2 linked regions of the Homo sapiens genome follow. The protein of the gene in region 1 purifies or fractionates together with the protein of each later gene. This does not show direct contact. Each region holds a gene or a part of one and is shown on either strand. Other genes may lie near its edges.

Evidence for each region.
Region 2: the proteins of ADAMTSL1 (region 1) and ACOX1 purify together in Homo sapiens (affinity purification with mass spectrometry; 2 studies listed by BioGRID and IntAct, with this or other methods). This does not show direct contact.

What each region holds. Positions count from the first base shown.
Region 1 is NC_000009.12:18,680,037-18,687,159, reverse strand, and holds part of ADAMTSL1 (ADAMTS-like protein 1 isoform 4 precursor), read right to left. Parts: intron 6,849-7,123; coding exon 6,644-6,848; intron 5,349-6,643; coding exon 5,201-5,348; intron 2,445-5,200; coding exon 2,360-2,444; coding exon of another isoform or gene 2,356-2,359; exon of another isoform or gene 2,203-2,355; intron 1-2,202.
Region 2 is NC_000017.11:75,969,167-75,976,166, forward strand, and holds part of ACOX1 (peroxisomal acyl-coenzyme A oxidase 1), read right to left. Parts: intron 4,620-7,000; coding exon of another isoform or gene 4,459-4,619; intron 1-4,458. UniProt on the Homo sapiens protein: Involved in the initial and rate-limiting step of peroxisomal beta-oxidation of straight-chain saturated and unsaturated very-long-chain fatty acids.

The DNA of each region.
Region 1 (7,123 bases):
CTTTCATTACATTATTCTACAGCTGTCATTTATTTTATTTTGGTATAAAAGTAATTATTATTCTGAGCACAATAGTATACATTTCCCTTACCCTGCACCAGCACTCCAATTACAATCTACTCCAATTCAGATTAATCATGCCAAGATGGCAATTTCATTACACTAAGAGTAAATTTTAATAGTTTAATATATGGCTATACTTTCAATGGCTAAAACTTTTTTAACTACTTTAAAGATTTTATTAAGATTAAAGTTAAACGTAATGCATCTTAATCGGATCTTTAGTAGAAAATATTCATGACAAAATATGGTTGACGATGGTCTATGTAATGCTTCTGTGGATGCATTAAACTCCACTGATAGCTTTCATCTGAAAGGCATCTAATAATGGGAAGATGCTTATCGATGTAAGATGTTTCCATTTACTTTCAATTTTGTATTATTATTTACCATCAGCCAGAACGCAAGATTATACATAGGATTACGCTTTAGTCCAAGTGACAAAATACAGTGTACAAGGGGAAAAGAGTTTATTTAGGTAAAATAAAACATAACTGGTTTCAAATAGATTTAACCCAATAGGATATAAAAGGAGTCACCAGCTCTAATTACATAGCATCTTTCTGTGTCTTAAATAGGACCTTACTGGATTAAGAAGTTATTAATGCCCCCCTAAAAAGAACTGCTTATTTACTCCTCAGCAACAAAAAGGCCTGTCAAATCAGGTACTGGCAGAGGAGAAGCAAAAAATTGTAAGCCTTTATATTTTCATTCCAAGGTTACACTGTGATCTTTAATCACTCCCTTTCCTCCAAAGTTCTGCAGTGGTTAGTTGCTTTTTCTCAAAGAAGTCAAAAAGTTTGCTGTAGTAACTTTACAGTACAGAAATAATTTATGTTTGCTTAATTATCCTTCTAAGTAAAAATATGTGTTTTCCCGGGCCAGGCGCTGTGGCTCACGCCTGCAATCCCAGTACTTTGGGAGGCTGAGGCAGGCGGATTGCTTGAGGTCAGGAGTTTGAGACCAGCCTGGGAAACATGGAGAACCCCAGTCTCTGCAAAAAAAATTAAAAACATAGCCTGGTGTGGTGGCCTGCACCTGTAGTCCCAGCTACTCGGTAGGCTGAGGTGAGAGAATTCATTGAGCCTGGCAGGTGAAAGCTGCAGTGAGTTATGACCGTGCCACTACATCCATGCCCGGGTGACAGAGTGAGACCCTATCTCAAAAAAAAAAAATAGGGAAAAAAAGTGTTTTCTAATGTGTGCATCCTTTTGGTGTATGTGAAATCAAATGACAGAATATAGTTTCTTTACAAGTGACCTTTGGTTATGGTACAAATCTATATTTTGGATTTCTTGTGCACTCAGGAACACAGTTGTGTTCTGGCAAACCACATCAGATTTAGATTCAAACAGAATGAATCTGAGAAAATTCTAAATTGCATTTAAATAGGTTGCAACGTTAATTTATATCTCCAGTAAAATTTGGAAATCATTTTATATCCTACATGCTCCACTATTAACTCTTGGAGGGTGGATGAGTTATCTTAAGTGCCAGTGAATAGCACAGAGCTTAGAACTTACATTAAATGAATTAATTTAGAAAATTTTTCAACCTGAGAAATTTCTTGGGTCATAGATGAAATTTTTCAATCAATTGTATCCCCTCGTTTGTAAAAGTGATGTAGCAGCTATGCCTATCAGTGTTTTCTAATGAAATCAATACATAAACTTATCAATCATCCACTTAATCTACTTTTGTCTCTCCTATTTGTTTCCTCTTCTGAAGACACTGGCAAATCTGGGCCTCACGGTTTTACAGATTCCATGGACTTGATAAAATTGAGTAGACATGGGACATAATCAAGTGGGGCAAATAAGCAGGTCCATCCCTGATACCAATCCCAGGAAGAAAGGGAAAAGAAAAGTTAATGAACTTCCTTTGCCCTCAGGTATACTTTACTTGCTCTTTAATTTTTGTGACTGTATTGCAAAACTGGGAGAGTGTGAAAAGCAGCTCAGACTTTGGCATCAAATCTATGTTATATCATCAGCTGCAGCCTGGGCCTTCTCACCTTTGGCCCCTTGCGCAGAGAAGAGAGGAGGTCAGATTTTGGAGAAGAGGGTAAGCACTACACCTTCATTTTCTTACTTTAGGCAAAACAGAAGTATTTACAATGCAATCATCAGCTTTGACAAACACTTTTTGAAACTAATCAATCTTTAATTTGAGAGCCAAAAAGCTTTGGTGAGATGATTACACTTAGTTCAGAACCCATGAAAGCTACAACCAGTGAGACACTGCTTTCTTTAAACAAAACAGTTTCAAATATAGAACAGTCTGTGCTTTTACAACTTACGAGGGCTCCTCTGACACAGCAGCTCCTTCTTCTAGCTCTTGAGCTTGTTTGAACCATGGCAACTTGGCCTCGACTGGAAGTTTCTCTGAGAATTCAGTGCATGCACATACAAAAGAAGAGGTTAGAACCAATCTGGGATTTTAGGAAAATTCCTTATTCTCCTCACCAAGAAGTTACTACGTTGACCAACACGAATAAGTTTTTGGGTAAATTGCTGCCTCTGATGATGGTTATATCTAGAAAAATAAAGTCGAATTTTAAAATGTTTAATAATACTAGTTTGTGTGCAAGCTTTCTCTTTATTATGATGAATAGCAAAGGAAAGTCATTTTATTATGAAAGTTGTAAGTGTAGGAGCACTAGCTCAATATGCATATAAAGAATCATCGAAGTATCTTTTTACCATTCCCTCTTGAAAAGATAGAGCAGCATTTACCTTGGAAAACAAAGTACAGTCAATTATATTGTGATATTTTCATAAATTCTAACTTTTTTTTTTTTGCCTTTTAGCTAAGTGTGATCTATGTCACATTGCCAAAAACAAACTCTTTCACTCTGAAATTCACAAAACATTGATTTAGATATCTGACTCATTCAGTACTACCCCAAGGCTCACTGACAATTGGAATATGTGCAAATGAGGGTTCATAACACATAATTTGACTTATTTCACCTATTTATCTAGCTTTGGCCAAACAATTCAAAACAAACTTCCTAGTTACTTCCTGGGAAAAAAATTGTGGAGGAGAAAAATGAAGAGGGATGTTCTAACGGCTCTTACAGAAGTAACTGCCAAGATTCCCATTCTAGCATATTTATTAGGGTCATTTATGGGGATATTTGCCTTTATAGTATGAGCCAATGATGCTCTATCACCATTTTATAACATACAATTGCAAAGATGAAAGAAATATGTCTATACATATATGCACCATAGAATTATATGGTATTTTAATGATGTTTAGAGAGCCAGGCTCACTCCTTGGTTGTGAAAATCCAGACTTGATTCTTGATAGTTAACTGCAAACTGCTTTTCTTTCTCTGAAGTGGCTTGGTAAAGATAAAGCTAATAAACAATTGACTATTTTAAGTTAGGGGCATCACTTCTTGTTCTCTATGCACAGCAATTATTTATAGTCAAAAAACAAAGCAAGTGAGAAATATAAAACTGCCAAAGCCAAAATGATTTGCTAACATTTTAAACACAGCAACACCGTACCTATACATACATCATTTTACAACTACTCCAACTATCCCAGTAAATGACTCAGTCGGCTGGGCGTGGAGGCTCACGCCTGTAATCCTAGCACTTTGGGAGGCCGAGGCGATTACCTGAGCTCAGGAGTTCGAGACCAGCCTGGGCAACAAGGTGAAACCCCGTCTCTACCAAAAAAAAAAAATACAAAAAATTAGCTGGGCACGGCAGCATGCGCCTGTAATCCCAGTTACTCCGGAGGCTGAAGTAGGAGAATCGCCTCAGCCTGGGAGGCAGAGGTTGCAGTGAGCCGAGATCACGCCACTGAACTCCAGCCTGGGCAACAGAGTGAGACTCCGTCTCAAAAAAAAAAAACAAAAAAAACCTCAGTAAATGAAGCTGTCTCTGGTGGCATAGTTAGCTCTCTGTCTTTCAATAAGGAAGCATTCAGTTTGGCACTCATAGTAAGCTTGTAATACTTTATTGCTGTTTTGAACTAAATCCTGTCAGACGCACCTGTGGCAACCTCCTCCCATAGTTGAGGGCACTGACGATAGTCAGGAGTTAAAAGTAACTTACTGTATGTAGAAGTTACTATATTGCAGGCACTAGGTTAACCACCCTGTTTATGTTATATCTCATTTAACCTACGCATGATCTCTGATTTAGATACTATTATTACACCCATTTTACAGAGGAGGAAACCAAGGCTTCGAGAGAGATGCATTTATTAAAGTTAATCAGGATTTCTGTTTTTTTTTGTTTCCTTTTATATCATTAATTTAGATTTTATGATGCCATTCAGTTGCAATTAGGGCCACCTATAGTATAATAAAGAGCTACACTGTGACTGATTTTTCAGAGAAATTTAATGGCTTAAAAAATAAAGAAATGGGAGCCATATTTAATATTAAAAATTAAAGGGGGTTTAAAGAGTTCTTTACTTCTGAATGGTTTGTGACTTTGAATTTTTCTTTTCCATTGACACAGACAAGTAACAATACTTGTACAGAAATCAAATTCATATTCTTGCTAATCTGAGATATCCAGTGTAATTATAAGTCTGGCTCACTAAATGCTTAGTTCTACACTTTCCTAAAATTTCTTTTTTATAAATTATTGCAATATCTTTTAAATTCTGATATATTTTAAATTATGGTTCTGGAATTCAGTCTCATATTAATGTTTTAATTTTCAATATAAAAAGTGACAGTTTTCTGTTTCATCAGTTTGAAGTATGAGACTTCCCAATGTACTTCAGCCTTAGCAAAATAGACATACTTGGATTCACTCCCTTGTTTTTAAAGGCAAGAAATGTGGATAGTAAATCAAACATATATTTCTAGAATATCTGGTCTCCCTTTAAGCAGGTACATCCGTATTCTTCAGCAATAGTCCTCAAACAACTTTATGACTTGGGAGATAATTATATAAATATATTTCTACATGTAGTGGTTAATGAAATTTTGCAATCAAAATCACTTGAAAGATTCTTTAAGATAATCAAATTCCTTTAGTAGAGTTTAAGTTATAAAGAATTCTTACTAAGAATACTTGGGATACTTAAAAATATTCCAAGGAGTTTAAAACACACCTGACTACACACAACAATTAACAGGCTGGTAATAGAGCACCTGTCAAGTTACCTTTGGGTTTATAGCAGGGAGTGGGTACGATGCATTCCTCTTTTATGTGGGGCTTTGTTTTTGGGCTACAGCCTCCTGTGTGCATTCCTCGATGGTCGATGCAGAGGACCACACGGTATCTGAGGCCCTGGCCACATGTCACTGTGCACTGGAAAGAGATTGCAAGAGAGAGGAGACTCGTAGGCAAAGCCTTGTTTACTTTTCTTCACTTCCCATCGAAAACTTTTAATCTAAGTTTTCTTTTTCCCCGCCCCCCCCCCCCACACGAGGACTCCTGGTAAATTTATACCACTTCTTACCAGTCAAGGGATCTTTGTTCTATTTGGCTATTTGAGGTGAAGCTCGCTGAAAATTAAATCACTTTCAATTCCATAGCTTTGGATTAATCAGTCAGCAATCTTTAAGTACCCACTGTGTGCAAAGTCTCAAACCAAGCACCAAAAAGAAGAAAGGAGAAAAGAGACTGTAGAGTGTGCTTAATTTTGACTACCAGCACTGTATTTTATTTAGTTACTTTGCTAATGACCGCTACTTCCAAAAATATGGGAAATACCCCTACATGGATATCAAAAAATTTAAACTACGATTATAGCTAAATTATATTGCAGCATTGTTAATCCAATTGATTACATTGAAAGGCAAAAATAACATTTAAAAAAACAGATTGAATGACCAGATGCCCAATGTAGATTGCACCTCTAATGGTTCCCCATGTCTGGTAGCATGTCTAGATGTAGAAAATGTCACAGCTCTGATCTGCTGCCATGAAGCCACAGGGCTCAGTGAAGAGTCTTTTGTCATTTCTGAGGCGGAGGGCACAATGGCTTATTTCATCTTTCTGTTTCCTTTACGATTTTCCTTTCTGCATTAGCAGTCAGGAAACCCTGAATGACATTTTATGTTTAATTACAGCAGGTTTCCTAACATCTATAAGTTTTTTGTTTTAATTATCTTACTTCGTTCCAATTTTAATTTTTGTGCTATTTTCATTTCCTCTTCCCCCTTCTCCAATGATTAATATACATAGTTTTAATATTAATCCACTTAGACCCTTTCGGATACAAAGCATAATACATACAAAATGAAATCAAACTTCTGGTCTACTGAGCTCTATCATCAAAGCAGCTTTTACAGATTCGGGATCATTCATTCAGCCTCAATTACCCTTGAAAGGCAGTTGCTTCCCCGTGCTATTTGAGGGAACATTATCTGGGGAACAATAGAGGCTTCTTGAAGAAACTTGAAGAAAGACACTTTAAAAAAACATCATTTACTTTTGGTCATGCTGGATTTGGGGCATTCCTACTCCAGGAGCTAAGCTGGTAGGCTTCTAGACACCTCAAGAAGAGTGTGGAGCTGCTCAGGGTACCCGGTGGGGCCATGATGATGAGAGGGAAGAGTGGACTTACTCTCCTAATGAACAAAGAAAGAAGGCACAGTTACCGGAGACCACTCCTGTGCCAGCCATTTAGGGCAGTCAAAAATGTTGCAGGGCTGCGCGATGGGCATCTTAGGGGTGTACATGCATTTCCACTCTTCCACTGAAGTGACATGCCCCTGGATGTCCTCCTCCACACAGGAAACTGCCCGGCTCTGGATGCCCCCCCCACACGAGGAGGAGCACGCGGTCCATGGGGTGGCCTCCCACCTACAGAAGCAAGGGGAGTCATCAGGGCAGACATGCACATTGCTAAGCCTCCTCAGTGACTGGTCCACCAACCCACTCCCCATGTCTATTGGTATAATCAGGTTCTGAGAGGCTAAGGTCCAGAAAACCAAAAGCCATCTATTGCCTGAAACCTGATGAGTAAGAGAGAAGGATTCAACATTGGCAAAAGGGCTCTGCAAACCGTGAAGCTCTATACAAATGTAAGCCATTACAGTTTTGAGAGCTGTCCACAAAGATATGTGTGCCGTCTGTAA
Region 2 (7,000 bases), on another chromosome or scaffold:
TTATTTATTTATTTTTTGAGACGGAGTCTCACTGTTGTTACCCAGGCTAGAGCGCAATGGCGCAATCTCAGCTCACCACAACTTCCACCTCCCAGGTTCAAAAGCTTCTCCTGCCTCAGCCTCCCTAGTAGCTGGGATTACAGGCACGCACCATCACACCCAGGTAATTTTGTATTTTTAGTACGGACGGGGTTTCTCCATGTTGGTCAGGCTGGTCTCGAACTCCCGACCTCAGGTGATCCACCCACGCTGGCCTCCCAAAGTGCTGGGATTACAGGCGTGAGCCACCGTGCCTGGCCAGAACACAGCTTTCATAAAGTTTATATTATTATCACTAATATTGGTGAAATTTAGCCCAAATCCCCAGGGAAGCAAGTCTCATGAGAAGTCCAACAGGGAAGAGAATCACTTGGGCAGAGGGAAGAGGAGACTGTTAAGCCTAGGGAGAGAGGGCAACGGAGTGCGGTAAAGACTGATGACTTAAAAATCAAGTTTACTACCTCTTTCCAGTTTCAAAGAAAGGTGCATTATTTCATATTTAAGTGTTAATGATGGCAATTTGCCAGGATACTGCATCAGCTTCAAGGATAACTATGTATCATACAATCTCTATATTCCTAAATAGATGGTAATACGAAACAAGGCAATGTGACCCCAGTCCATGGGTGAGGAATAAAGAAAGAAAGGAACGAAAGGAATGGAGGAAGGGAAGAAGACAGAAAGAGAGCGAGAAAGAGGCCGGGTGCAGTGGCTTACACTTCTAATCCCAGCACTTTGGGAGGCCGAGGTGGGCAGATCGCCTGAGGTCAGGAGTTCAAGACCAGCCTGGCCAACATGGTGAAACCCTGTCTCTACTAAAAATATAAATATTAGCCAGGTATGGTGGTGCACACCTGTGATCCCAGCTACTCAGGAGGCTGAGGCAGGAGAATCACTTCAACCAGGGGGAGGTGGAGGTTGCAGTGAGCCGAGATTGTACCATTGCACCACTCCAGCTTGGGCAACATGAGACTCCTTCAAAAAAAAAAAAAAAAAGAGGAAGGAAGGAAGGAAGTGAGCAAGCAAGCAAACAAGGAAAACAAAGCAAGAAGAATCTCCAGAAATGGCCACATCTTGAAATGATTACATATCTGTGAAGAGCAAACAAACGACCTGTTTTGTGGCCTAAAGAAACATATGGTCAGGATGATAACATGGACCCAGTTCCCCAGGCTGTTCCTTTGATCCCAGAACTCCAGGGAGGTGAGCCTATCACCCAGGTTCAGGCCTCTGCCTTTGATTATGGCTCCCAGACCCACAGGGCAGGTGTATATCCGAGTTTCTTCGTGTCCTTAGAGGAAAGAAGACACACTCTAGAAAGAAGGATAATGCTGGTGACTGAGACTTTCTGTAGGTGACTGAATTTTAGGATTTGGAAGGAACATGGAGTGAACCTGAATACTTCTGAGCCCCTTCACTTCTCAGCAGCTACCCAGAAGTGAAAGAATCCCAAACCCAAAGTTACAGCTACTTCTGTGAGACCGCGTTAGATAATCACTGTTCACTGTTGATCCATTTTCCAAAGTCTCAGAATTTAAATAGTTAGATCTCATTCTATATAAGCTGCTCTATTGCCGATCTCCTGGACGTTGACTTTTTGTGTATTCCATATAAGATAAAACCGTCACGTGATGCAAATTAACCAACCTGACTTATTTCCAAGGAAAAGATCAGTCATCAACCAAGAACAGCAATATGAATTAGCAAAATTCCAGCAAGAAAAAAGACTAATCTTAGGACACTGTTCTCTAAACCACAGAGATTAAGACAACGTTGGTTTAAATACAAGAAAATACCCAAAACTAGCTGGGCATGATGGCTCACGCCTATAATCCCAGCACTTTGGGAGGCCGAGGCGGGCAGATCACCTAAGGTCGGGAGTTCGAGACCAGCCTGACCAACATGGAGAAACCCCGTCTCTACTGAAAATACAAAATTAGCCGGGCATGGTGGCACACGCCTCTAATCCCAGCTACTAGGGAGGGAGAGGCAGGAGAATCACTTGAACCTGGGAGGCGGAGGTTGCGGGGAGCCGAGATCGCGCCATTGCACTCCAGCCTGGGCAACAAGAGCAAAACTCTGTCTCAAAAAAAAAAAAAAAAATACCCAAAACTAAAAGCAATAAGGGAACGAAAACTCTAACAAATGCAAACTTGCCCACAGCCATATAGGATCTCTGTCCAACTTCTGTTTGCCTCAAACCAGTATAGTTCAAGTCTTCCTTTCTTCCTCTCTCCTTTCAAAAATTAGGGCAGGCCGGGCGTGGTGACTCACACCTGTAATCCCAGCACTTTGGGAGGCTGAGACAGGTGGATCACCTGAGGTAAGGAGTTTGAGACCAGCCTGGCCAAAATGGCCAAACCCCATCTCTACTAAAAATAACAAAATTAGCCGGGCATGGTGGCAGGTGCCTGTAATCCCAGCTACTCAGGAGGCTGAGGCAGGAGAATCCCTTGAACCCAGGAGGTGGAGGTTGCAGTGAGCTGAGATCACTCCACTGCACTTCAGCCTGGGGCACAGGATGAGACTCTGACTCAAAAAAAAAAAAAAAAATTAGGGCAAATATATATTTGTGATATTACTTTATAAATGAGGCAGAAGCATTAGACCAACAAGAGGTAAGAGGTATACTTAACAAATCCATTAGCCTCAGACTATTTCACATCTTATGCCTCCTATGAACAGCATGACTGTTAAGTCGAATAAATTCTATAATGATGAATACTGAAACAGAGTTCTGTACCACAAAGCTACTTCAAAATTACAACACACACACACACCACGCATGCATGTACACAAACACACAGATACTCCAAGCGAGGAGGACTACATAAAGAATCTTATCTCTCAGGCCGGGTGCAGTGGCTCATGCCTTGTAATCCCAGGACTTTGGGAGGGCAGATCACGAGGTCAGGAGATCAAGACCATCCTGGCTTACACGGTGAAACCCCGTCTCTACTAAAATACAAAAAATTAGCCGGGCGTGGTGGCGGGCACCTGTAGTCCCAGCTACTGAGGAGCTGAGGCAGGAGAATGGCGTGAACCCAGGAGGCGGAGCTTGCACCGAGCCGAGATGGCACAACTGCACTCCAGCCTGGGCGACAGAGTGAGACTCTGTCTCCAAAAAAAAAAAAAAAAAGGAAGGATCTGTCAGCCAGGCGCGGTGGCTCACGCCTGTAGCCTGTAATCCCAGCACTTTGGGAAGCCAAGGTGGACAGATCACCTGAGGTCAGGAGTTAAAGACCAGCCTGGCCAACATGGAGAAACCACGTCTCTACTAAAAATACAAAATCAGCCGGGCGTGGTGGTGAGCACCTGTAATTCCAGCTACTCGGGAGGCTCGGGCAGGAGAGTCACTTGAACCCAGAGGCGGAGGTTGCAGTGAGCTGAGATCATGCCATTGCACTCCAGCCTGGGCAAAAAAAGCAAAACTCTGTCTCAAAAAAAAAAAAAAAAAAAAGAATCTTATCTTCCTTTACAAACCTTTCTTTCAGGCTTATAATTTCAGTACTGACCATCTTGAAGTTGAAGTCTTGAGTGTTTAGTAAAGTGTCTGGAACATCAAACCATGACCAGAAAGCTGCAGTACCCATGGAGATGACAATAAATAACATTTTCCTTAAACCAATTCACACACTGAAATCAGCAATCAAACACAAAATGATGTTTCCCTGATATCTGCATCCCTTTTTCTTTCCCTTTCTTTACTCCTGCCATTTTGATAATTAGACATGAGGCTGGGCAGTTCAAATTCCAAACACTCAAACCTGCCAATGGCCTTGTCTATGAAAACAAACCTATTTCACATTAAGATCAAAAGCAAAACTTTTTGAAGGAAGCCAGATATTTAGGAACAATTTAACAAAGAATTACTGGCAACACAAGAGTTCCCAGACATGTAGGGGAAAAAATGTCTAAAAAGACTGAAGTCAGATGAAGAGAATCATGGACTTTTTTCCAAACTGCCTTATAACCCTGCTAGTGGGCAATGAGATGAGACAGGTAGCTGCCACTGCCTGCTGCCCCCATTAAAATCCACAGCTTTAACTGCATTAGAGCAGAGAGGCGCTTTCCAGATATTGCTGAGGCACTAACCCTCTGAAGAATTTCCAACAAAGTCTTTACTCATTAGACCCAGAGTAACATAATGGGGTTCCCCGCTGCACTGTAAACCCCATCTTTTCAAGCTGTTCAATAATAAAAGGCTTTAGGAAATAACAGTGAATGACGTTTATAGGCCAGAGCCCTGGACCAGTTTCCAGGGAAAATGTCTAGGAGAAAACAAGAAGTTGAATTTTGACTTAACAACTTAAAAATAGAATCCCAAACAGGTAGCAGCAGAAAAAAGTCAAATGCCAGCAATCACTGTTAACTGATGTCCTGAGGTGGGTTACCCACAGACCCTCAATGTGGACTAACCGTGGCCCATTTCCGTCTGGGCGTAGGTGCCAATTATCTGGAGTCCTTTGGATGAAAGCAGCCATTTCTCTTTCTGAGCAGTGGTGCCCTGATTCAGCAAGGTAGGAATAAACATGGAGTAATTGAGGCCCACAGGTTCCACAAAATTGACCAAATGTAGTCTACAGGAGAGAAGAGAAAAGGATCTCAGCCTTCCTTTAGAAACTGCATCCTACAACCCCTTCTTGCCAAACAGCTTTGGCCTTCAAGGAGAAGGTCAGGAAAATGTAAACCCCCTTCTTATGAAATTAAATATAAGATTTACCATTTTACTACCTAAAAAGCCAGCAGCAGAACCTGATGATCTCTCTTCTTCTAATTATTTCAAGGCCACAGTTCCCACAGTTCATTTCGTATTTACATTTAATCCACTAAGCAAATTCTACCTAAGTTTTAGCATAAAAACTTCTCTAATTTTTGGAAGGGGAGGTTGTTGGTGTTATTTGCTGGTTTGATTGGTTGAATTTTTTAGAATGTGTGTGGTTTTTTTTTTTTGCTTTATTTAGGTTTTACCTGTTTGTTTCAAAGAGCAAAAATAACTCCATAGAACACTTATTTATAGCGCTGTTAACAAGAGCTCCAAGGAAGAAATAATTTCAACTATGTTTCCCTAGATAATATAAGCAAATATCCAAAAGAGTAAATACATATTCCAGGGCAGAATCATACATCGCTAAAGGTCTTCAGGGTTTACAATAAGTAATGTGGGCATGTAAAAATTTATCCCCAATGGTCAATGAACATTACTACGGATTAACTCTACATCACATTGAAATTTAGTCCTCAACTCTCTTCTTACAAAACAGAATCCACAGTAGTTGGCCTTGGCTGTGCTGTGTCATAGATTTTATAGGGATCAATTTTGTACTTTGACAAAGCTCGTATCTAAAAAGTTTAAAGTACAAAATACATCTCATCTAACTGATCTTCACGACTTCTCAACACATGATTAGGAAGCAATGTTACTACCAGTTTATCCTAACCTGTGCAATGAGCAGAGCATGAACTAAAGGACAGAAGGGATAGGCTGCCATTGCAGTGCTGGGGGACCCTGAAACCAAACTACCACCTTAAAAGAAATAATAGTAGCCGGGCGCGGTGGCTCACGCCTGTAATCCCAGCACGTTGGGAGGCCAAGGCGGGTGGATCACGAGGTCAGGAGATCGAGACCATCAGATCGAGACCATCCTGGCTAACATGGTGAAACCCCGTCTCTACGAAAAATACAAAAAAAAAATTAGCCGGGTGTGGTGGTGGGCTCCTGTAGTCCCAGCTACTCAGGAGGCTGAGGCGGGAGAATGGCGTGAACCCGGGAGGCGGAGCTTGTAGTGAGCCGAGATCGCACCACTGCACTCCAGCCTGGGCGACAGAGCGAGACTCTGTCTCCAAAAAAAAAAAAAAAAAAAAAAAGAAAGAAAGAAAGAAATAATAGTAAACACAATATACCCTTATTTTTCTATTTCCTAAATAAGTACTACACGGTTATCCCCGCCATTTCTTTTTTTTTCTTTTTTGGAGACAGTCTCCCTCTGTTGCCCAGGCTGGAGTACAGTGGTGTGATCCCAGCTCACGGCAACCTCTGCCTCCTAGGTTCAAGTGATTCTCATGCCTCAGCCTCCCAAGTAGCTGGGATTATAGGCGTGTGCCACCAAGCCCGGTTAATTTTGTATTTTAGTAGAGAAGGCGTTTTGCCATGTTGGCCAGGCTGGTCATGAAGTGGCCTGGCCTCAAGTGATCTGCCCACCTCAGCCACCCAAAGTGCTGGGATTACAGGCGTGAGCCACCATGCCCCAGTCCCATTGTCTTTTCTATCTTACATAAATCATAATCCACTTAGAAACAAAAAACTCTCAACATGGATGCTCTTAGATACGAATATTTCTAATTAATCAAAATGAATTAATGTAATCATTATAGATTCCACCAGAGGGAACGACTTCTGCGTCCTAATCATGTGTTTAGAAGCTGCTCATTAACATCAGTTAAAAATGTTTTCTCAGCCAGGCGCAGTGGCTTATGCCTGTAATCCCAGCATTTTGGGAGGAAGGGGCGGGTGGATCACAAGGCCAGGAGTTCGAGACCAGCCTGGCCAACATGGTGAAACCCCATTTCTACTAAAAATACAAAAGTTAGCTGGGTGAGGTGGCAGATGCCTCTTCACCTGCTGATAATGGAAATAAATGGAAATGCAGAGAGAGAGAGAGAGAGAGAAAGAAAGAGAGAGAAAGAAAAAGAAAGAGGAAGAGAAAGAGAAAGAAAAAGAAAGGAAAAGAAAGAAAAGAAAAGAAAGAAAGAAAGAAAAGAAAAGAAAGAAAGGTGATGTATTTCACAATTAATAGCATGTCACGGTTAACTGGCAGCATTCTTTCTTTCTTAGTGGTACACAAAACACTGGTGTGAGTTATAATCGATGAGATTATATAACCGAGGCTTTAACTCGATAGCATGCGATAATTTCCAGGACTCATTTACAAACCCCTTCTCTTACTTAAAAACTGATCTC